3 linked regions of the Homo sapiens genome follow. The protein of the gene in region 2 interacts with the protein of the main gene of each other region in a biochemical or structural test. Each region holds a gene or a part of one and is shown on either strand. Other genes may lie near its edges.

Region 1 (8,322 bases), on a different chromosome or scaffold from region 2:
AAAAGCAAATATAAGAAGCAAGAAAGTTTGCAACTTTATATATGATAAGTGATTACCGATAAATGGTAAAGCATTGACTCTACTGAGTGGATATGTTAAATCACAAAAAATGTAAAAAGGTCTGAAATTATTACACAATTGCTTCCAGATTTCCTTTTTCATTGGAAGAGTCTATCTCAGTTGGGAAGTATAGGTGAGAGGACAGTATATAAGCCAAATTCCAACACATTTTGTTTCTTGTTTTCTTTATCAATACATTACAATTTTTATCGACAAAGATTCTACTTCAATTTATATTAAATGACATGTCTAGTGTGCCTTCCATATCCATGGGTTCTGCATTCATGGATTGATGCAACCATGAATTAAATACACTTAAAAAATAAAGTAAAAAATAACAACACAAGAATAAAAATGATACAAATAAAAAACCCAATACAGTATAACAATTATTTACATAGCATTTACATTGATTTAGATATTATAAGTAATCTGGAGATGATTTAAGGTAGAAGATGTGCCTAGGTTATATGCAAATACTACACCATTTTATACCAGGGACTTGAGCATCGAAAGATTTTGGTATCCTTGGGGGTCCTGGAACCAATGTGCCACATAGAAGGATGATTGTATAAGCAAGACATTTTTATATAAAAATATTGAGTAATTAATCATTTTCTTATAAATATAAATATTTTAAAATAAATTACTATGGAATACATGCAATAATTATTCTTAGAAACTTACTGGAAAAAAATGCATCAAGAGTTCATGCTACCTATAATTTCTCCACACATACATTCTCAAATCAAAGACATGAGTAATAATATATTTTCCAGAATACAGAAATCTTACATTAATATATCAATATATAATGAGCAAAGAATACCGTAACTCAGCAAATTGTTGGTTTATATTTTTTATATAAAAATATGTAATCATAAATATGTAGTTATTTATTTAATTTAATTTATTTATATAAAATTTATATTTTATATAAATTTAATTTAATGTATTAAATTTTATATAAATTTAATTTAATGTATTATTTATATAAAATATGTAATTATAAATATATAATTATAAATGTGTAATTATAAATATATAATTATAAATTTATATAAAAATATGTAATTATAAATATGTAATTATATCTAATAGGGTATATTATTTTTTCTAAAACAAAGTAAACATACAAATGAGAGATTAAACAAATTAGCATAACATAAATTTATCTGCTCTAAAGCTGGGAAAAGATGTGAAAGAAATTATTTTTGTCTTTAAAAAATTCCTGCTACTTTTACAAACCAAAATTATCCAGGTTTACTTTTGTAAAAGTCAGTTAACTATCCATTTTATGCTTTATTGTGTGGCATCTTGATCAGACAAGAGAACATTTTTAAAAGCAATTTTACCAACTTTTCTTTTATTATATAGCTTTTCTTGAAAATATTTATTGCCGTGGGGTTTATTTTTAGCTTTTTATTAATTTTAATTTTCTGCTAAATTAAAAGAAGGACTAATAGATGTAAAAGAAAATTGATGACATTTATGTTATCATTTATTTAATCTCATATTTATCTGAAGACTTGTTTTGTGCTTATGCTTTCAGAATTGATTCTCACATATATTTATAAAACCTTCACTTCTTTGATTATTTAGGTCCATCAGGTATCACTTAATACATTTAATGATAAAATACCCTGAGAAAGAGTACAAAGAAAAGCCAGGCTACTGTTAGATTTTGTACATTTAACATATTTTAAGACACTTTAGATAACTCATTTAACCTATGTCAAATTATGTTTATTTTATATAAAAAATTTGTGTGTTTTTTACTTACGCATACTAAAAGGTCTAAATTTGTTATCAATTATTATTATTATTTTCAATTTCTCTTGCTGATCATAATTATGTACTGCTACAAATCTTCTATGCAACACTTTGTGTCGTGTTAATTTCACATTTGTTATCATCTTTATCCTTATACAAAAAATGAGTCAGGAAAGATATATATTTTTCCCCATAATTTACAATGGAGGAAATTTAAGTAGAAAGAAAGTAAATAACTTGCCTCCAGTGCCCAACGAATTAACTTTGCAGTTTAAACCAGAACTAAAGTCTAATAAGCATTGCAGTAAGCCACATCAAAATCATTGCCCGGTTCATTCTCCAGGCAGTCTATACTCAGGCAAATTAAATAACTTCTCTTTAAAAGGTTTTCTCTGCATTTAAACACCTTTGGCTATATTAAACAAACACTGTTCCACAAAAATATTACAATAAAATATATATAAAGTGTGTCATCCCTGTTTCCGTAAAATTGTTTATTTGTTTGTTTGCTTATTTATTCTTTATTTTTAGAGATGGGGTCACACTCTGTCTCCTAGACTGGAGTGCAGTGGTAAAATCTTAGCTCATTGCAATCTCAAATTTCTGGCCTCAAGCCATCCTCCCACCTCAGCATCCTAAGTAGAATCTACAGGCATGCACCGCCATGCTCATCTACTTTTTTAAATTTTTTGCACAGACGGGATCTCACTATGTTGCCCAGGCTGGTCTCAAAACTCCTGGCTTCAAGCAATCCTCCAGCCACAGCTTCCTGTAGTGCTAGAATTATAGGTATAAGCCACAGAACCCAGCCACAAAAATTGAAAGGTAGTTTATACATTGTAAGTACTCTGGGAAAGTGGACACGCAGAAAACAAATTTGAATGGAATCCATGAAAAGTACACAGAAAATACCATGCTCCAAGGTTTGGCATCCAGAACAAGAAGGAAAATGTGATGTGTGATACATTTTTTATTTTTTTCCCTTTCCCTTTTTTTTTTTTTTTTTTTTTGACACAGCGTCTCGCTCTTGTTCCCTAGGCTGGAGTGCTCTCGGCTCACTGAAACCTATGCCTCCTAGCTTCAAGCAATTCTCCTGCCTCAGCCTCCCTAGTAGCTGGGACTACAGGTGCCTGCCACCACACCCGGCTAATTTTTATATTTTTTAATTTATTTTTTATTTATAATTTTTTATTTAGAGACAGGGTTTCACCACATTGGCCAGGCTATTCTCGGACTCCTGACCTCAGGTGATCTGCCTGCCTCGGCCTCCTAAAGTGCTGGGATTACAGTTGTGAGCCACTGCACCTGGTTCACTTTCATTTTTCATTGCATGAAAGTATCTACAATTATCTGCAAGGTCACAGATTTCCTGGAACTAACTTCACACAGAATTTCATCACAACAATTTAAAAGAACAGCCAAACGAACCTCTGTTTCTAGCATCTGAGCCTGCATTTGGGGGAGTGTGGAGAGTGATTGGGATGATATGTATAGCAATATGTTTTTCAAATCTTTTTAAAACCCAGATTACTGCAAAAAGTAGGAATAAGATAAAAGATGTTGTGAGTCATGTGTGACAGAGGTCTCATCAACATTTTCTGAAACATGGATAAAGAAAAATTATCTTGAGGCCTGGACAGCACACACACACATAGCTCAGAAGTGTTTGCACACTGTAGTTCCAAATACATTTTCACATTGAAGATTAATTCACCAGAGCCTTTCTAAATTGCTATGTATGCATTTCTGTGTGACAGAGGAGAGAGAAGAACAGAGGTAAATCTTTTAAAGCAGGCAATGGGGGTCAGAGATAGGGATGCCTTACTAGGCGCTGACTCAATGTACCATAGCATGGGGCAAATTGATCTTTGCAGCATGTGGTTAGCTGACAACATCATCTCACGTTACTGGCTTGATGCCTTAAAAAAACAAACAGGGGAAGCAGAGGGACATAGTAAAATACGCCACCCTGCTGTGCTTGTAACATGCACAGGAACATGTATCTGAATATTTCCATATATTCCCCTCTGTTGCTTAGGCATAAAAATTCAAAGGAAATTATAAACTTCCACTGTGATCTTTTCACTCTTGTGCATTGGTAAATCCTATCCGTGTACAACTGGGGCCTATTGCCTGTGTTTGTAAATTAAGTTTAATTTGAAATGCCTATTTCTTTACACACAGGCTGTGACTGCTTTCCTACTACAATGACAGGTTGAATAGTTGCAACAAAAACTAGAAAGGTTGAGATATTTACTGTCTGGTTCTTTACAGAAAAGGGTTGCCAACCCCTAGTCTGGAAGTGAAAATACATCATGTTACTGCTACCAAAAGACCTTTCACGATGTGGAAGCAAAAGATCTTCAGAATTACTTGTTTCCTTAGAGTTGTTACAACCAGAACAATTTAGGGCCAAATAAAACAAAGAACTAAACAAAAGAAGTAAATTAAGAAAAAAAAATTTCAAATTTCAAAAAATGAAAAGATGGGTTCCAAAAATAGACTAGACTATTTCTCCCTGTCAGTTGCCAGGCTGATTTCCGTTTTCTTCTGTATTAGCCCAGGCAGCAAGAATATTTTCAGCCATAACAATCTTTTCTTTTAATATCCACTTCTCATGAAAAAGAATTGGATGCTCATCATCTTGTTTAAGTCCCAAGAGTTTGGGACTTAAACAAGTTTGTTTGTTTTGTTTTGTTTTGTTTTCCCCTTGAAATTAACTTTTAAAGCAAGGACTTTCACACTACTTCTTGGTTTGGCCACTACATCATGTAAAGATGGTGGGTTTAACATTTATTACAGTGAGGTTGATTTGCTGTTTCCACAGGACAGCAGAAAGGGTGAACCCCCATTGAGCTTGTTTCCTGAATTGTACTCTGCTTCAGATACTGGAGAACAGAAACAATCTCAGAAACCCAAGAGTCAGAGTTTTGAGAACTTTTTTTTTGATACTTTGTTTTGTTTTGTGTTTATCTAGGAGAGACTTTGAACAGCATCTGTAATTCTAGGTTTTCTATTATTTGTACTGTAAGGTGTTGATTTGAATTCTCTAAGTTCTCAGGAGTGAAAGGACAGAAGGAATTTAGCTGCAAGAGTACGTGAAGAGAAGGGCAAAAGAGAAATCATTTTGAGCTGACACAAATTTGCTACTACTCAACCCCAGTAGAGTTGTAGTACCCACCACAACGTAGATATGAAGAGATTGGAACTCAGAGGTGTTAATCACTTGAACAATGTTAGTAATTAGTTAATGGCATGGATAATTCATTACTCCCAATTAGTCATTCTCTTTATTTTGCCTGCACCTGGACTATTACGTACAGTGGATTCATCTGATCATTAAAATTCTACCTACCAACCTGACAAAATATTAGTTATAGCTCTTCTTTTCCTGTGAGTTATTAATTTAATGAAATGCTCAAACTAAATGTAAGCATCAGAGTATGAGTAATGAAATAACCATATGAAAATAAAGTAATTTCACATATTTTAGAAATATAGTTCTTCCTGTAGCTTCACTTTTATATAGAGTATGTGACACCGTGTCGTTGTTGTTGTTAAGACACTTCTGTGGATTGTGTGCAAGGGGCTGATTTGATTAATGACTTAAGACTTCTCAGAAAATTCAGATGACATAATAAGGTTTCTATTGTGTACTTTATACATTTGTCTCTTATTTACCTTTTCTCTCTTATTTCTGAATTGCTGTATTTTGTAACTCAATTTATGCAGCTTTACTGGGGATAAAGTCAGGAGAGTTCAGATTCTCTAAGATCTAATCTCTCATGAAGCAAATGCTAATACTGAATTATGTCCCAATATAGACATTCTGACATTTAAAGCATATCACATTTTAACAAAATTTTTGAGAGGGATTTAACAATCCCTCTCAAAAATATTCAAATATCTTTGTGCTTGTGATGGTGAGTTTTTCTTTCAGTCACAGAATATATTTAATCTTAAGACCACAGTGATAGCTCCAGACCTTGGTGTAAGTCTTCTGCTCTTGATGTCACTAAGACAGGGTTTTGAATCATTTTGAAAGGCTCTTCCAGGGGTCTTTACATTTTAATTGAAATGAGGAAGAGGTTCGTGGAAGAGGGTTTGCTGAGTTCATGCTGGAGGAAACTTGTATCAGAAAGACATGAGCTGCCAACACTCTCAATGTGAACATTGGCATATTGGCTCCAGTCCTGGAAGCAGTAAGGGTGTTAGAATTCTGAGGCCAGCTGCAAACTCCCGAGGCCAGTGGTGGCCCTCTCTGATTAGGCAGGGTGGGAGTTGGTAGCAAAAATTATCTGAAGGTATTTGGGCCAGAGATTATTGGCCCCTGCTCTGTGACTGGTTTTAATCTTGGTGCCAACCTCAATCAACTGGCAGGGACTGCCTCTGTGCTGGGTTAAGAGAGAAACTAACAATGTACCTTGGTTCCTGGGAGTTCCTCTAAATGAACTGTAAGGTCTTTCCTCCAGGAAACAGTGGCATGTGTTTGTCATTTCCTGTCTCATAATCAAAATGCTGTAAAGGCCACAGAAAGCAATCCACCCGCACCTCCAGTAGCTAAACGCATTTATTTTACTATTTTATAATGACAGTAGTTCATCATTGAGGAGGGCTATTCTCATTAACCATGAATACTAATTAAGCATGTTGATCATAAATAATCAATTTTCAGAGAGGAAGAAAAAATATGGCTTTAATTCTTAATTTTTAAAAAAAGACGTCAGGATTTACAGGTCATTGTTAAGAACACCAGTCTTCATTTAACCATAAATGTTAGGATACTGGTTTATTCAGAATGTTGCTTGATAGAATGTAGGAGAAGCTCATATTTTTCTGGATTATTATTTTAAAGTTTTAATGTTCTATTTAGTCTTACATGGACAAATTTTGAGATATCAAAGGTTAAACAATTTAATTAAAATTAAACTATTTGCTCCATTTTACTTGAAAATTATAGGAATAAATCAATATTTGTCTGCGGTTTTTTTTTTTTACTGCTTATCTGTATCATAACAAAACACAAGTCAATTAGAAAAGATTTCCCTAATAAGTGATTCCTTTATCCACAGTTTTTCCCTCAGTATCACACACATACACACACACCATGCACACGCACACACACATTTACTCACACAGTTTGTCATCAATAAGAATTCTTTTCCTGCTGTAGTAATAAAGATAAAATATCAAAGAATTTCTTTTCTTTTCTTTTATTATTATTATACTTTAAGTTTTAGGGTACATGTGTACAATGTGCAGGTTAGTTACATATGTATACATGCGCCATGCTGGTGCGCTGCACCCATTAACTTGTCATTTAGCGTTAGGTATATCTCCTAAAGCTATCTTAAAAATAAACCAACAAATGAAAATCCTGCGCATAATAAAACTGTGTACTTTTTAAAAACAATTAAAATCTTATGTGGCCATGCCATGAAATTAAACAAGAATTTTTGATGAATAGATCTCATAAGCCAGATCTACGCATTCCTCAAAAACTGTGCTTCAATGCCTTTATAGAAGGATCAATAAGCAGGTAGCCATAATTGATACAGTCATACTTCACTTACCTATAGGAGAAAAGTATGTAACTTCAATGATTTCAATCTCACTTAAGACTCACTCAGAAGCAATTCAGAAAGGGCTGCTAAAGCCTGAAACAGCTATCACTAAAGCCCCTACCAATCACTCTTAGCTTCAATCAATGTCTTATTTATGTTTATGGACCAAAGGTCCAGAAGAAATATAATGATGAGGGGGGGTGTTCTGTAAACCTGTGCTGTCTGATATGGGAGTCGCTAGCCACATGTGGTTATAGAGCACTTGAAATGTAGCAAGTGCAACTGAGAAACTGAATTTGAAATCTTGTTTTATTTTACCTAGTTTACATTTAAATTTAAATAGCCACACGTGTCTAGTAGCTACTATATTTTTAGTGAAGGTAAGCCTACCAATAGCATCATGTTACAACTAACAGTTTGACGATAGTGAATTTCAATAAAAACCATACAAAGCAAACTCAAGAAGCACAGCAGTTCAGAGATACGTAAGTAGGGAAATTAGGTATAACCCCTATGGTCTCTGTGGGTGTCACAGAGCAGGAAACAAGAAGTGGTGATTTTTAACAGTAATTTTCAAAGTTAAGAAATCAAATTTCATGTCACACTCTGATCACAATTCTTTCAGGCCCAGAAAATCCATCTAAGTGTCCCCAAATTCAATAACATGTAAAAGACAACTTTTCTTACCTGCCATCACTCCATAGGTTGATGGCTGGTTTCCATAATGACAGGAAGGAACAGAATAATGAAGTCCTGTTGCTGTGTTTCCCAACGTTGTCACCGAGAAATGTGTGCACAAACATTTAGGAGTTTGGATCAAAGACAAAATAGATGGGACTGGTAAGAAAATGTATAAGGATTCAAGACACATTCGTTTTATTTCAAAAATACACATTTATGTGGTTCTTAAAGTTACATGCCAATA
Region 2 (9,644 bases):
GGGTTAGGTTGGACAGGAGAGAGAATGGGCTGGGTGGATAGGGGAGGTGGCAGAGGAGGGGCTGAACCCCAGACGGGGTGAGGAGGGCTGCTGAGTAGCCGCCAGCCCCGGGCCTGGCACGTGGCCCTGGAGGAGCAGCCCCACCCAGGCACCGCCACAGGCTGTCCTAGTCAGGAGATCTCATTGCCAAACACTTCGAGCACAAGGGGCGTTAGCTTCATGCTGCACTCAGGCTGGAAGGAGAGGCAGCGGTACTGCTTGGAGTGCTCCTCATTGAGGCTGCGCAGGTCGGCTAGCTTCTGGATCATCTTGGCATAGAGCAGGTGGCTGCCCGGGGGCGGGTGGCGGCAGCGGATGTACGTCTGCAGTGTGTTGGACAGGCGGTCCTGGATGGCCTCAATCAGCGCGGCGTCCTGCACCCCAGGACGATCTGTGGGCACGGGGATAGAGAAGAAGGCACAGGAGCTCTCAGCTGGGCCCCTCACTGCTCAATCCCACCACCCCCCACCCACACAGACACTCAACGGCAGCACCCCCTAGGCCACCCCTCTATGACTGCTGACCGGTGATACCACTGCCTGGCCCCAAAGCCCTCCAGTGACTTCTCCGTGCATTTAGGATCCAGACCTAGGTCCTTCCATGGGCGCACCTGGCCCTGTCCCTGCCTGGCCTTGCTCCCTGTCCATGCTCTGTCCATCCCTCAGCGTCCCGATGCGCCATGCTCTCTGGCCACCAGCCTTCACATCTGTGCTCCCTCTGCTTGGAACTCTGCTCTGCTATCTTTGCCAGACTCTTACTGATCCTTTGGATAACAGCTTAAAAGGTCTTCCTCCAAAAGGCCATTCCTGGCAACACTCTACCTCTGTAGCCCAGACCACGTCAGCTTCCCTCCTTCTATTCTACCCTTCTGTAGCATCACTTACTTTATTTTTAAAACTCTTGCCTTGTTAGGAATTAATAATTAAATAACATTTGTTTAATGTTTCCTCCTAAGCTTCATGGGAGAGGAGCCTGTGTCCCATTTGCTGCTGAACCCCAGTACCTAGCATAGTGCCTGGTACCTAATAGGTGCTCAATAAATTGTTGCTAAGTGGATGAATGAATGAGAGAAGGCTGGCTGGGCAGGGGTAGAGGAGCCCATCTCCATTCCTTGAGCCTCCAGTCCAGGAAAGCATCCCTGGGCACAGGCCACTAGCACAGGCTGAGGCAGGGCCGCCCCTCTTTGGACCTCATCACCGACATCATGTCCCCAAGGTCACAATAACTTCCTCTTCGGCCTTTTCTCCCTCTTCTCACCTCTAACCAGCGGAAGAGGTCAAGGGTCACTGCACATTGCCTCCAAAATCAATCAGGTAAACTATATAGGCAGAACCATCTCTCAGGCTCCAAAGTTTTGTACCCTGCCCGCAAGAAACCTCAAATAACAGGAATGTTGAGCCCAGTTCACGCAAGAGCAGAGCCTGAGTATTGGGAATGCGCAGGCCTGTCTGTGGCCCCAGGAACCCTGCTTATCTAGTTCCTCAGAATCCCCCCTACGAATCGCCTGCACACTCTGCAAGGCAGAGCTAAGGGCAGTGAGGGGCACCTCAGCGTCCACACACCACAGGGGCTCTGCAAACCAGCAAAGTAGGTATTTCCTTATCTGTGTCTCCTTTTGCTACGTCTCCCTTCAGGTTGCCCAGCTGGCCCTCAGCAGGTCTTTGTCCTTCATACTCCCCGCTCCCCAGGTCCCTGAGCTCCTCCCTGCCTGGCCCCATACCTGGGGAGACGATGCAGATGGCCATGAGCAGGACATGCTCCTCCTCATGCAAGTTCAGCTTCTTCAGTCCCACCTGGAACTTGATGAGGGGCTCAATCAGCTCCAGGCTGTGTCCGGCTGTGAGAGACAATGGCCAGGTACTGCGGGCAGAGCTGAGGAGCCGCCCACCCACCTCCAACCCCATGGGTCTGACCCTCGCCCTTCTCTCCCTGTTGGTGCCTAACTCCCTCCCATGTATCTGATTGGAGCCAAACCCCAGGACGGGTGGAGCCAGAATCTGGGAGCTGAAAAAGACTCCCCAGGAGGTGGAGTCTAGGCATACCTTTGGTCACGTCACTGACGCGGTACTTGTAGTCTTGGTTGCCACAGGTCCAGGACATGTCGTCCATGGTGAAGGACTCATTGGAGCGCAACATGATGACCTCAATGGCACTTGACTTCAGCAGTACGATCTGGTCCTCAGAGGTGAGGTCTCTGCAGGGGAGGGAGGGAAGGAGGTCAGGTTACCAGTAAACGCCTTCAAGCCACACAAATCAGTTTAGTGCTTTGACAGGTATACACCTGCTGGGCACCAACATGCACCCTGGGTCTTTCATCGAGGAGCTTGCAGGCTGGCTGGAAGGGACAAGAGTGTTCCTTGAGAGAGAACAGTTCAACACTGTGATCATGTGCCAAGGCCAGAAGTGAAGTAGCTCAGTTACTAAGACAAGAAAAACTCAGAGACCAAGCAGCCAGAGCTATGGGGCACAGGAAACGGAGCCCAGGGAAGTTCCCAGCATTGAGGCATGAATATGGTGGTCTGCAAAAGGTAGGGCCATGGTATCTTCAACAACACCCAAGTTTTCTCCTCCTCTCCCTCCTACTGTCCTCCAGTCCTTCTCAGTAGTAAATTCAGCCAACTCTGTCTCTAGGATGTCTCTCAAGCCCGTGATCTTATTCCCACTCCTACCAGGAGTGCCCTGGTTCAGAGCTCCAGCGTCTTTTCCAATAGCCTCTTACAGGAATCCCAGACTTGTGTCTCTCCAGTCTCTCATTCATCTTTCTTACCACTGCTGCAGGTCAATGTCCTCTTGCACTCAGAAATCTTCACTGACTCTCAAACACCCTAGGATCAGGCCCACACTCCCTAACTTGGCTCCAACCTCTCATTCCAACTCCCTTTCCCATGGTAAACTCCACCAACCTTCCATTCTAGCAGCATCATGCCACTCCACATTCAGATGCTGTGTGTTCTCACTGTGCCTTTTTTTTTTCTTGTGACAGGATCTCACTCTGTTGCTGAGGCTGGAGTGCAGTGTTATGATCATAGCATGCTACAGCCTCAAACTCCTGGGCTCAAGTGAGTCTCCCACCTCAGCCTTCCGAATAGCTAAGACTACAAGCATGCGCCACCATGCTCAGCTAATTTCTTTTATTAGTATTTTTAGAGACAGTGTCCTGTTCTGTCACACAAGCTGGAGTGCAACAGAATGATTATGGCTTACTGCAGCCTCAAACTCCTGGGCTCAAGCAGTCCTCCTGCCTCAGCCTCCTAAGTAGCTGGGACTACAGGTGCACACCATCACGCCTAGCTAATTTTTTTTGAGACGGAGTCTCACTTTGTCGCCCAGGCTGGAGTGCAGTGGCGCGATCTCGGCTCACTGCAAGCTTCGCCTCCCAGGTTCACGCCATTCTCCTGCCTCAGCCTCCCGAGTAGCTGGGACTACAGGTGCCCGCCACCATGGCCAGCTAATTTTTTTTTGTATTTTTAGTAGAGACGAGGTTTCACAGTGTTAGCCAGGATGGTCTCGATCTCCTGACCTTGTGATCTGCCTGCCTAGGCTTCCCAAAGTGCTGGGATTACAGGTGTACGCCTAGCTAATTTTTAAATTTTTTTTGTAGGGATGGTGTCTCACTATGTGGCCCAGGCTGGTCTCAAATTCCTGGCCTCAAGTGATCCTCTCATCTTGGCCTCTCAAAGAACCAGGGTTACAGGTGTGAGCCACTGCACCCAGCCATCACCACGCCTTTCAGCATACTACAGCTCCAGCCAGGAATACCCTTCTAATTCTCCATTTTGTTTTTCTGGTCCTGAATCCACTGTGTTTTCCACTGGAGCCCCGCACCTTCTGACTCTTTAGCACAGTTAGGGCCATGTCATTGTGATGCCTTGAACATTGCTGGTGCTCTTATTTTGCCCGTCTCCTCCAGTTCTGCTCTTTACATGCTTGTTTTCTACTCCTTTTTTTTTTTTTTTTTTTTTTTTTTTTTGAGACAGAGTCTTGCTCTGTTGCCCAGGCTGGAGTGCAGTGGTGAGATCTTGGCTCACTGCAACCTCCACCTCCCAGGTTCAAGCAATTCTCCTACCTCAGCCTCCTGAGTAGCTGGGATTAGAGGCACCTGCCACCACACTCAGCTAATTTTTGTATTTTTAGTAGAGACGGGGTTTCGCCATGTTGGCCAGGCTGGTCTCGAACTCCTGACCTCAGATAATCTGCCTGCCTCAGCCTCCCAAGGAGCTGGGATTACGGCGTGAGCCACTGCACCCGGCCACTTGTTTTCTACTCTTGTTTGTAAGTTACTTGGGGGCCAGCACCTCCTCTTAATCACCTTACTGTTGCCCACACACTGACCATTGAGCCGTCAGCACAAGATGATCAATAGAGATGCGTTGATGATTTGAGAGGCCAATGACTAGTTCCACTATTCTGAGTCAGGAATGGGCTTGTCTGAACAATGGCGAGGAAAAGGCAGGGCTCACAAATCAGCTTGCTTCTGGCTTTTACTCCCTTTCTCTTCCTGACTGTCTACTTCCTCCTGGATATCCTGCAGATAGGCTGTCACCCCGTCAATGGCTGCATGTTTATATATAAAGATGGGAAGCTGATATTAACTGATGAGAGTGTTGTATCAATGGGTGATAGATGGTGGGAAATGAGAAGGCTTGCATGATCAGGATGGCCAGCAAAGGATCTGTATTGAAAAAAAATCACAACGTGCTAGAGTTGGAGGGCCCCTCTTAGGAACTCTTAGAGATGGCTCCTACATAACCTCTGCAGGACTCTCCTAGGGTCAGGGAGCTCAGGGCCTCTGGACACAGCCATGGGGTTGTTAGCGCCGAGATTAATGACCTCTTCTATTGAGCTACAATCCACGTGATAGTACACTCATTTGTGGTTTACAGTTTTGTGCTCAATAAACCCAGAACCAGACTTCTCCACTAGCCATGGGACTTCCTTTGAACCATAACTAATGGAGTTTTTTAAAAAGGAAAACTGCCGTGTCCTCCTTCAGATAGTCTAATGACACAATGTCTAACATCTCACCATCCTTGTCACTTTTCTCTAGATGCTCAATCCACATTTAAAACACAAAAATGAACACCATCCCCATTTTTGTTTTGACTCATTATACAAGTAAAACATACTCATTATCAAATCTTTGGAAAATACATAAAAATGTAAAAACAAATTAAATTTGCTCATAACCACACTTCACATTTTGGCGTATTTTCTTCCTATCTTTTTTTCTTATTTATTTATTTTAATTTTTTTTTTGAGACAGTCTTGCTCTGTCACCCAGGCTGGAGTGCAGTGGTGCAATCTCGGCTCACTGAAACCTCTGCCTCCCGGGTTCAGGCAATTCTCCTGTCTCAGCCTGCGGAGAAGCTGGGACTACAGGCATGTGCCACCACACCTGGCTAATTTTTCTATTTTTAGTAGATATGGGGTTTCACCATGTTGGCCAGGCTGCTCTTGAATCCTGACCTCAAGTGAGTCCTGCCCACCTTGGCCTCCCAAAGTTCTGGGATTATAGGTGTGAGCCACCGTGCCTGGCACCTTCCTGTCTTTTTTCTATGCAAATATATATATACCCACAAATATACATAGAGAGAGGGAGTATACATTTAACATACTGGAGCTTATACTAATTCTTTATCCTACTTCCTATATCACTCAAAATTATTTAGCCCAGTTCTTAGAGGGTTGCATGATGTTACATCATAACAGTATACTCTAAGTTATTGAGCCAGTCTTCCATTTATCTATTTTTGAACATTTTGATTGCTTCCAATTTTTGCTATCATAGGTAATTCTGGGAGGAATAACTTTATACATAGCCTTTTGTTCAGTGCCCCACTCAAACAGATGGCCAGCAGTGAACACATCTTCCATGGATGCAGGCCAGAGAGGTTTTAGTGGGATCACTGCTTTTGTGATCCAGACATCCTGCTGCTAGGAACACAAACCCAAAACGACCCCAAATGACTGCCCACAGCCTGGAAATACAGGGCCTTTCTAAATACAGCTCACAGCCAGGACCAGGGATGGTGGCGTGGTGGGAGTAGAGGTGGAGTTACAGGGGAAGCCATAAGAGAGCTTGTTCCACGATGATAGGCACCAGCACAGCTCCGTTCCCCCTCCCTCACCTGTGTGACATTTACACCCTCCTCTGTCTTCACGCCTGCAGCCGCTTCTGGGCACCCGAGATGTGACTGGAATTGTGTTGCTGTTTCGTCTTTCCCACCCCCACAGGCAGAGCCCGGCCCCTCCCCTCCCCTCCCGCATTCCCACGGTACCTCCAGCAGGCTTGTAGCAGGGCTCTTATCTCCTTGCAGCAATTGTTTACATGTCTATCTCTTTCATCAGACACCAAATCCCTGGATGCCAGGGACTGTCTTCTCAACAACTTTTGTCCCTCACAGTTTATGTAAGAAAGCTATTTGTTGGATGGATGAAGAAATGAATGTGGAGAAAGGGCACAGCACGAAGGAAGCATGATAACCCCCAGGGCTCTTCCCTAGGTATGGAAATGGCAATGAAGGTGAAGGCATTTAGCAGAAGAGGGCAGGGCTGCAGCTTATGTGGCCTGGTCTCTTGTGTACTTTACTTGTCAGTGAAGCCTGGGGGTCCCAAGTCCTCAGATCTAAGGCTGCTCTTGGCCATTTAGATGCTGCTGCTGATGCCACCTCCTCCATGCATTTCATTTGCAGTGCCAGCAGGGAGGGAGATTTGTGGGGTGAGACTGAGAGGCTAAGGGAGGAGAGATGGGAGGAGAGAGCAGGCCAAGGCCACACTGTAGCACAGTTCACACCAAGAACAGCCCATCCAGCCCTGCCCCACGTTGGTCTCATGCCCCCACTGGAGACTCATCCTGTGCCCCCACACACCCACACAGAAGTCTCATCCTGCCTTCCCCACACCCTCCGCCCCTGCCTGCAGGCAGCAAGATCAAAGCCACCAGGGATGCAGCCACTGTTCTTCTATGTCTTGGAACAATAGAACCCCTAAGTGTGGAAAGCAGCAGAACCAGAGAGCTACTGGGCTGGCCCACCCTGGGCCCAGTTGGAGCCTAGGTTTGGGCTCCAGTCCAGGCTCAGCATCACCTCTGTCCAGTCACAGAGAGCGTCCATACCAGTGTCCCTGCAAGCTCTCTTAGCAAGGCCTGCTCCATTTTCATTGGCATACCTTCTGCTCTGGGACTTCTCAAGTCATACTGAAGACAGAGAAGCCAACCCTAGCATGTTCAGGATCAGTTTAACCCATTTTGCATCAATGGCTGGGCAGCTCCTGTACCTGCCATATGTACCTCACTTTAGCCATGAGTTGCAAGGACAGACTAGGGGACAGAGGAGAACATGATGAAAGGAAGAGGGCAGACTTCAACTTAACCTCGGGAAGAGAAACTGAGAGTAGTGCTATTTGTGTCAGGGTACATGTGGGAGGGCAATGGATAGGGGCCTTGAGCATGGGAGAAATTGGAGGCTGGGGTTCCTTAGTGAAGGGGGCAGCATTGGAGTAATCCGATTTAATGAGTAACTTTCTTTTTAGGGCAGCTTTCCCGTGTATGCAATCTCAGCCACCATTGGAATCACTGAACCTGGAATCACTGTATCTGGAAAGGGCCGTGGGGGCCCTCTGTCCTACTCCCCACTAGAGCAGGGAAGGATGAAGCCTGTGTAGACAAGGACTGCTGCCTGACATGAGGATGGAAGCCGAGTGCTTCTGTGTTTTTTCCCTAGCTGTTTACACAAAACAAGACTTTGGAATATGTGGAGTTTGCAAACAGTAACGTGAAGCGTGGAGGAGGGAGTTGGAACTTGTGCTCTACGGAATGTGTTGTCAGTTCCAAAGAAAGCCTCTGAGGGTAAACCCTGGGCTCAGAGCAATGCCGGGCTCACACAAGATCTGTCGCTTGCTCCTGCTTGCCTGCCTGCCAGAGGGGCCCTCGCTCCTATCACTACAACCAAAATGTGCAATGCAGTAGGAGTGTCTCAGCACTGTCTGCCAGTTTTCTCTTCTTCACCATTTTCACATTAATTCCAGGGGAAGAGCATCGAAAAATTTCTGTTATTTGGGTTGGTGAGAGGCATAAAATAACACAGAGCCAGTTTTCTCAGGGCAGAAACAAACTGGAAAGTTCTGGGTTTAGCTCTGTGAATGACCATCATCTCACTGGCAAGGCATTAATTTCGGCAATAACTCATGGCTTTTCTACACAGCTAAGAGGGCCATACACCAATATATGGCACCTCATAATCTGTTTCCATCCAGAGCCGGCAATGTTAACTCATTTTCCAGCTCCCCATATTCCAGCACTGAATCTGAGCATTAGTATCTAGGAAGCATTTTGCCCCTTCTGCCGTAAATACAGCTATTGCTGCTACTTGAAAGACAATAACATTGCTTGAGATTGATTTACTTCTCTTTCTCAACCATATTGTTTATGTATTTTATGGCAATATACCAAATGAACTTTGGGGAAGAATGAAGATACAAATATACATAAATATAGCCATTTCCCAACACATCTATTAAATGTGTCAATACTCTATTGTTTTAAGAATATTGGCCGGCAGTGGCTCATGCCTGTAATCCCAGCACTTTGGGAGGCCGAGACAGGCGGATCACGAGGTCAGGAGATCAAGACCATCCTGGCTAACACGGTGAAACCCTGTCTCTACTAAAAATACAAAAAAATTAGCCGGGCGTAGTGGCGGGCGCCTGTCATCCCAGCTACTCGGGAGACTGAGGCAGGAGAGTGGCGTGAACCCGGGAGGCGGAGCTTGCAGTGAGCCGAGATCATGCCACTGCACTCCAGCCTAGGCGACAGAGCGAGACTCTGCCTCAATTAAAAAAAAAAAAAAAAAGAATATTGGCCGGGCGTGGTGGTTCATGCCTGTAATCCCAGCACTTTGGGAAGCTGAGGCTGGCAGATCACCTGAGGTCAGTAGTTCAAGACCAGCCTGGCCAAGATGGTGAAACCCCAACTCTACTACTAAAAATACAAAACTAGCCAGGCGTGGTGGTGCGTGCCTGTAATTTCTGCTACTCAGGAGGCTGAGGCAGGAGAATTGCTTGAACCCAGGAGGCAGAGGTTGCAGTAAGTTGAGATCGCGTCATTGTACTCCGGCCTGGGCAACAAGAGGGAAACTCTGTCTCAAAAAAAATACAAAAAATTAGCCAGGCATGGTGGCACGCTCCTGTAGTTCCAGCTACTTGGGAGGCTGAAGCAGGAGAATTGCTTGAACCTGGAAGGCGGAGGTTGCAGTGAGCTGAGATCGCGCCATTGCACTCCAGCCTAGGTGAAAAGAGCGAAACCGTCTCAAAAAAGAAAAAAAAAATTAACACTGCATGAGTATTTAAATATAAGTATTATATACAGTACTAGTGTTAAAACAATGAAACATAGGAATAAATGAATGAAATTTATATGAATGAATTGATAAAGGAGGATCCCTTCTCCAGTAGAACTCCTTATACTTATATATTTTGGCAAAAATGTATCAGTATGGTTAGGAAATGGTCTTTATTTTTTTCTTTTTTGAGACAGGGTCTTGCTCTGTTGCCCAGGCTGGAGTGCAGTGGTGAAATCATGGATCACTGTAGCCTTGACCTCCTGGGCT
Region 3 (8,322 bases), on a different chromosome or scaffold from region 2:
TGAGTATTGAATTCTGTTAGATCTTTTCAGCTTCTGTGGAAGGAAGTAAATGCTTTTTTCTCCTTGTAGCTATTAATTTAGTGAATTGCATTAATAGGTTGCCCAGTCATGGACTACCCTTGTAACCTATAATAAATCATATTTGGTCATGTCCTTTCTTAATGTAGTATTTAATTCTGATCCCTAATATCTTATTGAGGACTTTTATATTGATACTCATAAGTAAAATTGGTCCATAATTTTTTGTTTTATCTTTATCAGGCATACGTCATCAAAGTTATTCTCTCTTCATAGGAAGTTTTCCTTCATGTTACATATTCTCCAACAGCAGAAGTTCAAAGCATGTGAATTGTATCAGCTGTAAAGTGTGTATTAGAAATACATGAATGTTACTGGTATCCTCTGTAAGTCCAAGGTGCCACATATCACTCAGTGACAAAAGGGGTTTCTCTGGGCGGTTGGAATAAGTTGTCACTTTGAGGAGTTCCATACAGCTTTCTGCCTGTGCAGGGAAATCTTTGCTGTTGTCTAATTCTGACATGGTTTGGATCTGTGTCCCCACCCAAATCTCATGAATTGTAATCCCCATTGTTGGAGGTGGGGCCTGGTGGAAGGTGACTGGATCACGGGGACAGTTTCTCATGAATAGTTTAGCACCATCCTCTTGGTACTATCCTTGTGATCACGAGTTCTCACAAGATCTGGTTAAGTGTGGAGCACCTCTCCCCTGCTTCCTCCTGCTCTGGCCATGTGATATGTGTGCTTCCCCTTCACCTGCTGCTATGACTGTAAGTTTCCTGAGGCCTCCCCAGAAACTGAGCAGATGCCAGCACCATGCTTCCTGTAACAGCCTGCAGAACCATAAGTCAATTAAACCTCTTTTCTTATAAATTACCCAGTCTCAGGTATTTCTTTATAGCCATGCAAGAACAGACTAATACAACTTCTAAGCCAGCAGGATGTGGGCACGGTGTCCTGTGGGCTTTGTAACAGCTGGGACACTACACCTAGAGAGAGGGACCAGGCCACTGGAGAATTCTGACTTCCCAGGCCTCCTCCCAAATGACCAAGGCTCGGTTTAGAGAACAGGGATATAAACAATGGCTGTAAAACAGCAGCTACATCCCCAGCTTCTACATCCCCTTTCTACTGACTTGCTGGGAGATGCTTGGTGGAAAAACCTGGTGACTGTGGCAGGGCCTAAGAAATCTCCTGCTTCCAACTTGGGCAGTAGTCCCTCCAAGTCACTCAAACCCTTGGTGCTCTCTTACCCCTTCCACTCATCCCTCCCTGCTTCCCTCCACCCTGCCCCCATCTGCTAAGCAGATGCTTGGCTGCTCCTGTACACTTTAGTACTGATACCACTTTCACAGTGAGTCCTTAACTTTTTAACTTTCTAAGAAACCAGGAGTACTGAAACCACGGGAATTTCAAACACTGAAGTTGGAAGGGACTTCGGCTGTCATTGACTCTTACTTTCTCGTTTCACTACTGTACCTCTAGAGACCTTGTTTGGATGGGAACTTGGTTACTCCAGACCCCAGAGCAAAGAAAAGTCTTCTGCTCAGGAAGGGGGTCCTTTCCAATGGAGTGAGCAGTTGTCCAAGTAAGGGAATAGGCACTCCATGGGTGTGAGAAGTTCCAGCCAGAAAGCCCTCATATCCCATCCCACAGATTAGAAAACTGAAAAGTGACTTCTCCAGTGAACTAGTTTTAGAGTTGGACAATACTGGGTTTAAATTCCAAACCTACTTCTCATTAGCTCTGTGGCTCTGAGTGAAGTACCTGACCTCTAAACCTTAGTTTTCTCATCTTTAAAATGGGGATAAGAATACCTAACTTCAGTGATAGTTTCGAAAGTATTTACTCAAATGAAATAATGTTTATAAAGTGCTTAGCACAGGGCCTGAAACATGATAAGCACTCAGCATATGGTAACCATTAGTCCTTAAGAACACAAAGATGGAACAGCAAAGGAAGCTTAGAATCCACCTCATGTCTTTCCCTCCCACCTGAAAGAAATTCTCCCCATCCCTTCAGACCCTATGGACCTAAATTTTTGTCTAGACATGCAACTAGCTTTTTCACCACAAAGAAAAAAAGAAAGAAAAAAACTTAGTGTGCTGTAAGACAGCACACGAAACATTTATAGTCTACTACAGTGTGTATAGCATAATATTCTCTTAAATGTATTTTCTAAAAGCTCTTATATTAAAAAACAATGGGAACAATAATTTCCCATCTCGGCATGTCTATAGAATTTTGTGGTCTCTAAATGATCTGAACTAACTCGGAATTTTGCATGTTTTTAACTTGTTGAATCTGTTGAATCCCCATGTACCTATCACAGTTTCAACAATTAGCATTCATGGATGGCCTTGTTTCATCCCTATTCTCCTTACTCTTCTAGTCCCCAAATGGGATTATTTGAAGCAAATACCAGACATCACACCATTCCATACACATATACTTTAGCATGAATAGAATATACACAGTCATGTACCACATAACAATGGTTCAGTCAACGATGGACCGCGTATATGACAGTGGCCCCATAAGATTAGAATGGAGCTTTATGGGGGTACCACCTTTTATCTTTTACACACTATCTGTACTGTACCTTTTCTATGTTTAGATACACAAATAACATTGTGTTACAATTGCCCATAGCGTTCAGTACAACTTCATATTGTACAGGTTTGTAGCCTAGGAGCAATAGGCTTTACCATATAGTGTAGGTGTATGGTAGGTTATACCACCTGGGTTTGTGTAAGTGCACTCTATAATGTTTGCACAAAAACGCGATCACCTAGTGGTGCATTTCTCAGAATGTATCTGTGTCATTAAGTGATGCATGTCTGTATTAATAAAATAAAGTTACTTCAACAAGGGGGGAAATGGTGAAGAAATGTTTCTGACCTACCTAGCCAATAGTTGGCTGGATAACTTTGGAAAGGAGGCACCTATTGTGCCTTTTCCCTTTCCCTGACATCCCCAGACACCCAGAAACTTCCCTCACACCCCAAGAAGGCTTTGCAAAGGTGTTCACGGACTCAGGTGTCCTCTGAGAGGCTCAAAACAATCCCCAGATTACCTACATTTTTAATGGGGAGGGAGCTCAAAAGCTGGTAAACCTTCAAGATCCAAAGCCAGGGGATGAGGTTCATGTGGGAGAGCAGGGGTCACCTACTCTGCTGCCAATGCCATCTCTGGGCCAAGGGGCCAAATGTGAGGATGACATGCTTGCAGCTGGGGGAAACAGGTTGTCCTTCTGCCCATCTTTGCTCCTGGCTGTCCTTTCAAGTCTATTAGAAATACAGAGGAGGCCCACGCATACTACTTTTAGGATGGAAGCCCCATATAATCAAAACTGCCGGCTGAAAATCTCCCAGGTATATGCCAGGTTAGAGACAGGCACACCTCTTTCAGAGGAGACAACCTGGCCAGCTTCTCCTCCAGCGTTGATATACACCTTTGTTCCCTAGGCTGGGTACCAGATGAGCTAGCCAGCTTGAGTTTAGAATAAGCAATATGTATCTTTACATGCTCAGTTCAGCAAGATGCTATCAGTGTGACAAGAAGATGGGAACTATACGCCTAGGGAAGTGACAGGATTACAAGGACTGGGACAAATGCTCAGGCAGTGTGTGGAGAATGGCATCCTCCACCACACCTAAACTCCCTCCCTCTCCACTGTCACACAGTTCACTTCGGTAGTTATTTGTTGGTGAAATGCACACAGGATGCATACTGTGTCCTCTGGCATCCATATAGCAATGGGCTCCTCCAGAACAATCCATAACATGGTGGCTTCACACTGCCTGCCTGTTGGCTTGTTGTCACCACCCCAGTGCTCAAGAAAGGAATACTAAATGCCATAGCAAATTCAAAACTCTGCTGAACCCTGACAACTAGGAAGGTTTGTATTAGGATTAATAAAACAATGATCAAAAATCTTGATACTAGTACAACTCTGACTCATTTACTGTTTGATGCCTTGAATATTTAATAGGTATCTTGATGTTGCTCAAAACAAAGCCCTTGATTTTCCCATCAGCCTCCTTTTCTCTCCACAAACCTATTGAGTCCTACAAAACTCCTGCCCCTGCCCCCTCCTTGCCTTCCCAGCTCCGTGTACAGCATTACCATTTTTCAAGGGGTTCTAGTAGCTGCTGTAGAGCCATCCTTGACTTTCTGCTCTCACTCCTGCATCTAATCCTTCAACATAAGGATCCTTCTATATTGGTATCACATCCAAAGCATAACCTGAATCTGTCCACCTCTTCCTACCTCCACTGATTCTACTGAGCGCAAGCTTCCACTGCCTCTACCTTGGACAGCTGCAAGAACCCTCTATCTGCCTGCTTCCATTCCTGTGCCAGCAACTCAGAGGCCTTTCCTGACCCTGATCTAAAGGAACAACCCCACTCCCAGCCACTCCATGAATTCAGCATGTTATCTTCTCAGCACTTTATGCTACCCAGAAGTATCTTGTTTATATGTTCTCTCTCCTCGTTAGAACTTAATTCCATTAGATTAGGATCTTTCTTAAAGCCTGGTTCTATAAAATCTCTAAATCTGATTCTCCCACTTCTTGGGGCTATAAAATTAGAGAGATATTCATCATTGCTTTGACATGGGCCCTAATAGTATTTGATGAATGAATACATTTTTATTTTATTACAGTTTATGTGTTCAATGAGAAAAAAGTACCTGATTAAATCTCTGGGCGTTTTCCAGAATTTTCCTTTCTTCCTTCAGACAGCTGTAAATGATCATAGACATCTGGATTGGGTCTTCCTGAAAATTATCCTAGATTTGAGTGGTTAGAACAAAAATAAATTAAAATGCAGAATGTTTACTTTATTGTGTATTGTAAGTTGATATGAATTTGTTTATATTCTCCGGGAAACCTCATCTCTCATCTATTAAATTCTATATAAGCTATGTTTGTTAAAATCAAAATATTTCTTTCACGAATTATGACAAAAATTGCTTTAACTTTCTAAGTGCAGGTACCTAACGTACTTTTTGATTTAAAAACAAGTATTTTCACATATGGTTCACATAATATTTTTACTTTAATATCTTTCCATATTTCTTAAGGCCAATTATCTTTGGTTAGGATCCCGAGACAATGCAAATGATATAAAAACTATACATGACATTCCTCAATGAATGCATCTGTTGGTCTAAGCTTTGAACTAGACCAAAGATATTCATCTAGGGTTTTCTGTTGCCATTGTCAAAGCTAGTTTGCAAAACACTACCAATAGCAATAATGGCTCTTTATACAGGTACATTCATGCAAGGTCTGTATGAGAACAAATTTCTGTAAAGTTAATTTGATTTCCCCACTCGTAAATAAAATCATAAATACATTCACAAAGGAAAAAAAACAACTTCCAATTACCTAAGCTGAAAAGTTCAGTTGTATTGTATGAAAGAAGAAAATGATAGCTTTCACCTCCATTAAAACAGAAAAGTTCTGTTATTACACAACATAAATATGATAGCCACCCCAAGGGCATGCTGGGAGTACATCTGAAGAACCCCTAAAACTCTATAGCATGTTCTCTCATGTCTGGATCTTTCTTTGACTTTCTCTTCCAGGAGAGGCCAACTCCACCAGAAGCAAGGCAAGGTGGAGTCTAGTTCCTGAAGTCACCTGACTTCCTTAGGTGAAAGTCAAACCTTTCCTGTTTTATTCCTCATTTGCATAGCAAGGACCTGAACCTAACCACTAATGTTCCCTGGAGCTTTAATGTATTACTATAGATCATTGCTCTTAAAATGTAGCCCCTTTTCTTTGGTTTAAATATTGACAATTTTTAGTAAAACAAAATTATAGCATCACATTTTTCTCAGGATTACTGATACCTAAGAGGTGATACATTTAACCCTAAAAATTCCTTCTGTGTTTATAAAATAAATTGGTATCTTATTTTACTTATGCTATATTTACTGATGCTGTAGAAAACATAAATGGAGTTAGTCTCTATTACTTCTCTAAATACCAATAAGTGTGTGCTCAATTGTATTTGCTGAATGAAGAAAACTGCCTTCCATAAACATGAGAACATTTCAACTAAAATACAAAAACCAGGTCATACCTGAAGATTACGCTTGCTTTTCCTTATGTTATGCTGTAGCAAGAAGTTATTCTCCAAAGAAAAGCGACTATATTGATCATCCAGCTGTGACAGGAGGTCATGAAAACGGATGGTGGCAAATGAAACATCATTGGCAGCGTGCTCCCTAGGAGATTTAACATTTACACATTTCATTCTAGAACTAAATGTCTATGTAAAACAGACAAAACAAATGTTGGTTTCCTTATTGAAATTATTAAAAATAATTTAAGTATTTTCTTAGGTTTATTTTCTTCTTTTGAAACTGACATTGCTTTTAGCAGCAGTTTATGTGGTATTTCTCTTATGTGCAATTAGCACAAAAAATTCTAAACTCTAAGAGATTGTGCATGACAGTGTTCATGGTGACTATCTCTGAAGGGGGAAAAGTCAACAGGGGACCCTTCACTTTCTATGTCAAATACTTTCAGGACGTTTTTAAATTAGCAAATAATAAATTTTAAAGTAGAACACCTATCAGTTAAAAAAAATCCCCTTAATTTTACTACCTTCTTCATATTTCTAATCAATGTTTAACCATTAATTTGGCTTTATTTCTTTTAAATTACTTCTTTCTATAGTCTGGATCCTAAGTTGGAAAATAATCGGTGTCAGTATTCCGTAACTTGTCCAAAGCATTTAGGAATATCTATCATAAATTAAATTTGGCAAAACTGTATAAAAGTGCTTAATGACTAATATACTTAACTTTGTTGAGACACTTTTTGGCTCAACTTTGTTGAGTCATTTTTTAAATCAACAAACTTTTCTACAACAAATAATTCCAGTGGCCATTGATGGAATTCATCTTCCAGTAAACATGGCCCCAAGTCACTTAATCAACCAGTACTTTTAAGGTGTAAACTTCTTCTTCTGTCTAGTGAATTTTCCTTACCAGTCTTGCTTTTCTAACCACTGTGCCAGGTACTGTCTGATTTCCATGGGAAAACTGTCATCATAAAGCTGGTGAACCTGCTCCAGGAATTTTGAGTCAAGCTGCTGAAGTTCGTACCACTGAGACATCCTATAGGGAAAAAGAATATACATTCTTTCTATGTATATGGAAACCATAGCTCCAAAGAAAGCCTTCCTAGCATCAGGTTGTACTCTTAAATATCTTGCTTAATCCAAAACATAGTTTGTCCCAGGAATATTTTATTTAAATGGCATTTATAGTCTAAAGCCTGTTTTTAATTGAGTTTGGGGATGAACTTTTTTTCTCCTCCACGAAACACATCTTCATGTCTTTGCTTATTGTCAACATATCAGGGCAGCCTTCTCTGGCCTCTTTTATTTAAACTGCAACCACCTCCCACCCTGGAAACATGCTCTCTCTTTTCCCTGGTTTATTTTTCTTCATAGTACTTACACCACCATCTGACCTACCACATATTTTATTTTCATTATTGTCTGTTTTCACCACTTGAAGGGATGGATGTTGGTGGAGGATTCTGTGCACTGGTGTATCCCTAGAACAATGTCAACCACATAGTAGGTATCCAATAAATATGCCTTTAAAATGAGTTTGTGATTTTATCAAATAAATACATGAAAAACATTATTTTAATTAGACTTGCTTTAAGACAAATCACAAGACTCTCCCAAAATTGCTCTCCTACAAATCACAGTACATTTGTAATTTAACTCAAATATTTTCAAACTTCTGTTTTATATTTATGATTCATATGGTAAAATTCATTATTTTTCTTATACACATTTAAAAAGATATATTTTCTTCTTTGCCTACTACAAACAATAAATCTGGCATAAAGAAGTAATGATTTTTAAAGATTAAAACATCATTAAATGTAATTTAAAAGGATAAAGTAACACTTAGCTTTTTGGATAACTGTTAAGTCCATTTTTACATAGTGATCCTAAAGATTCAAAATCACAACAAAAACTTGATATAAGCAAGTCCTAAAATTCATTAGGAAAACGGAGAGTCTCCCATGACCATCATGTAACTTAGGATTTATATCAGCACACAGGTGGCAATATGCAGAGCAGACACAAGTGAATCTTGTCCTGCCAGACCTCTGGGGAAGGAGTCTGGATTTTCAAGTAGGGCATGGAAGAGTGTGTATGCATACTTGTAGCCGAGCACATGTATGCAGGCATGAGGTCACGCCTACTCCACAAATGTCCTTCCAAAGGAGTGTGAGGAAATGTCTGGCCTATAAAGCTAGTT

What was found. Proteins that work in one complex are often made in the same cells at the same time.
Region 1: the proteins of VDR (region 2) and POU1F1 form a complex in vitro, tested with the Homo sapiens proteins (one study listed by BioGRID).
Region 3: the proteins of VDR (region 2) and STAT1 form a complex in vitro, tested with the Homo sapiens proteins (one study listed by BioGRID).

What each region holds. Positions count from the first base shown.
Region 1 is NC_000003.12:87,265,263-87,273,584, forward strand, and holds part of POU1F1 (pituitary-specific positive transcription factor 1), read right to left. Parts: intron 8,235-8,322; coding exon of another isoform or gene 8,157-8,234; coding exon 8,085-8,156; intron 1-8,084. UniProt on the Homo sapiens protein: Transcription factor involved in the specification of the lactotrope, somatotrope, and thyrotrope phenotypes in the developing anterior pituitary. Specifically binds to the consensus sequence 5'-TAAAT-3'. Activates growth hormone and prolactin genes.
Region 2 is NC_000012.12:47,844,576-47,854,219, forward strand, and holds part of VDR (vitamin D3 receptor), read right to left. Parts: intron 2,234-9,644; coding exon 2,082-2,233; intron 1,877-2,081; coding exon 1,760-1,876; intron 431-1,759; coding exon 171-430; coding exon of another isoform or gene 1-170.
Region 3 is NC_000002.12:191,002,850-191,011,171, forward strand, and holds part of STAT1 (signal transducer and activator of transcription 1-alpha/beta), read right to left. Parts: intron 7,601-8,322; exon of another isoform or gene 7,523-7,600; coding exon of another isoform or gene 7,518-7,522; intron 7,156-7,517; coding exon of another isoform or gene 7,155-7,155; coding exon 7,027-7,154; intron 6,295-7,026; coding exon of another isoform or gene 6,259-6,294; coding exon 6,114-6,258; intron 4,813-6,113; coding exon 4,714-4,812; intron 1-4,713. UniProt on the Homo sapiens protein: Signal transducer and transcription activator that mediates cellular responses to interferons (IFNs), cytokine KITLG/SCF and other cytokines and other growth factors.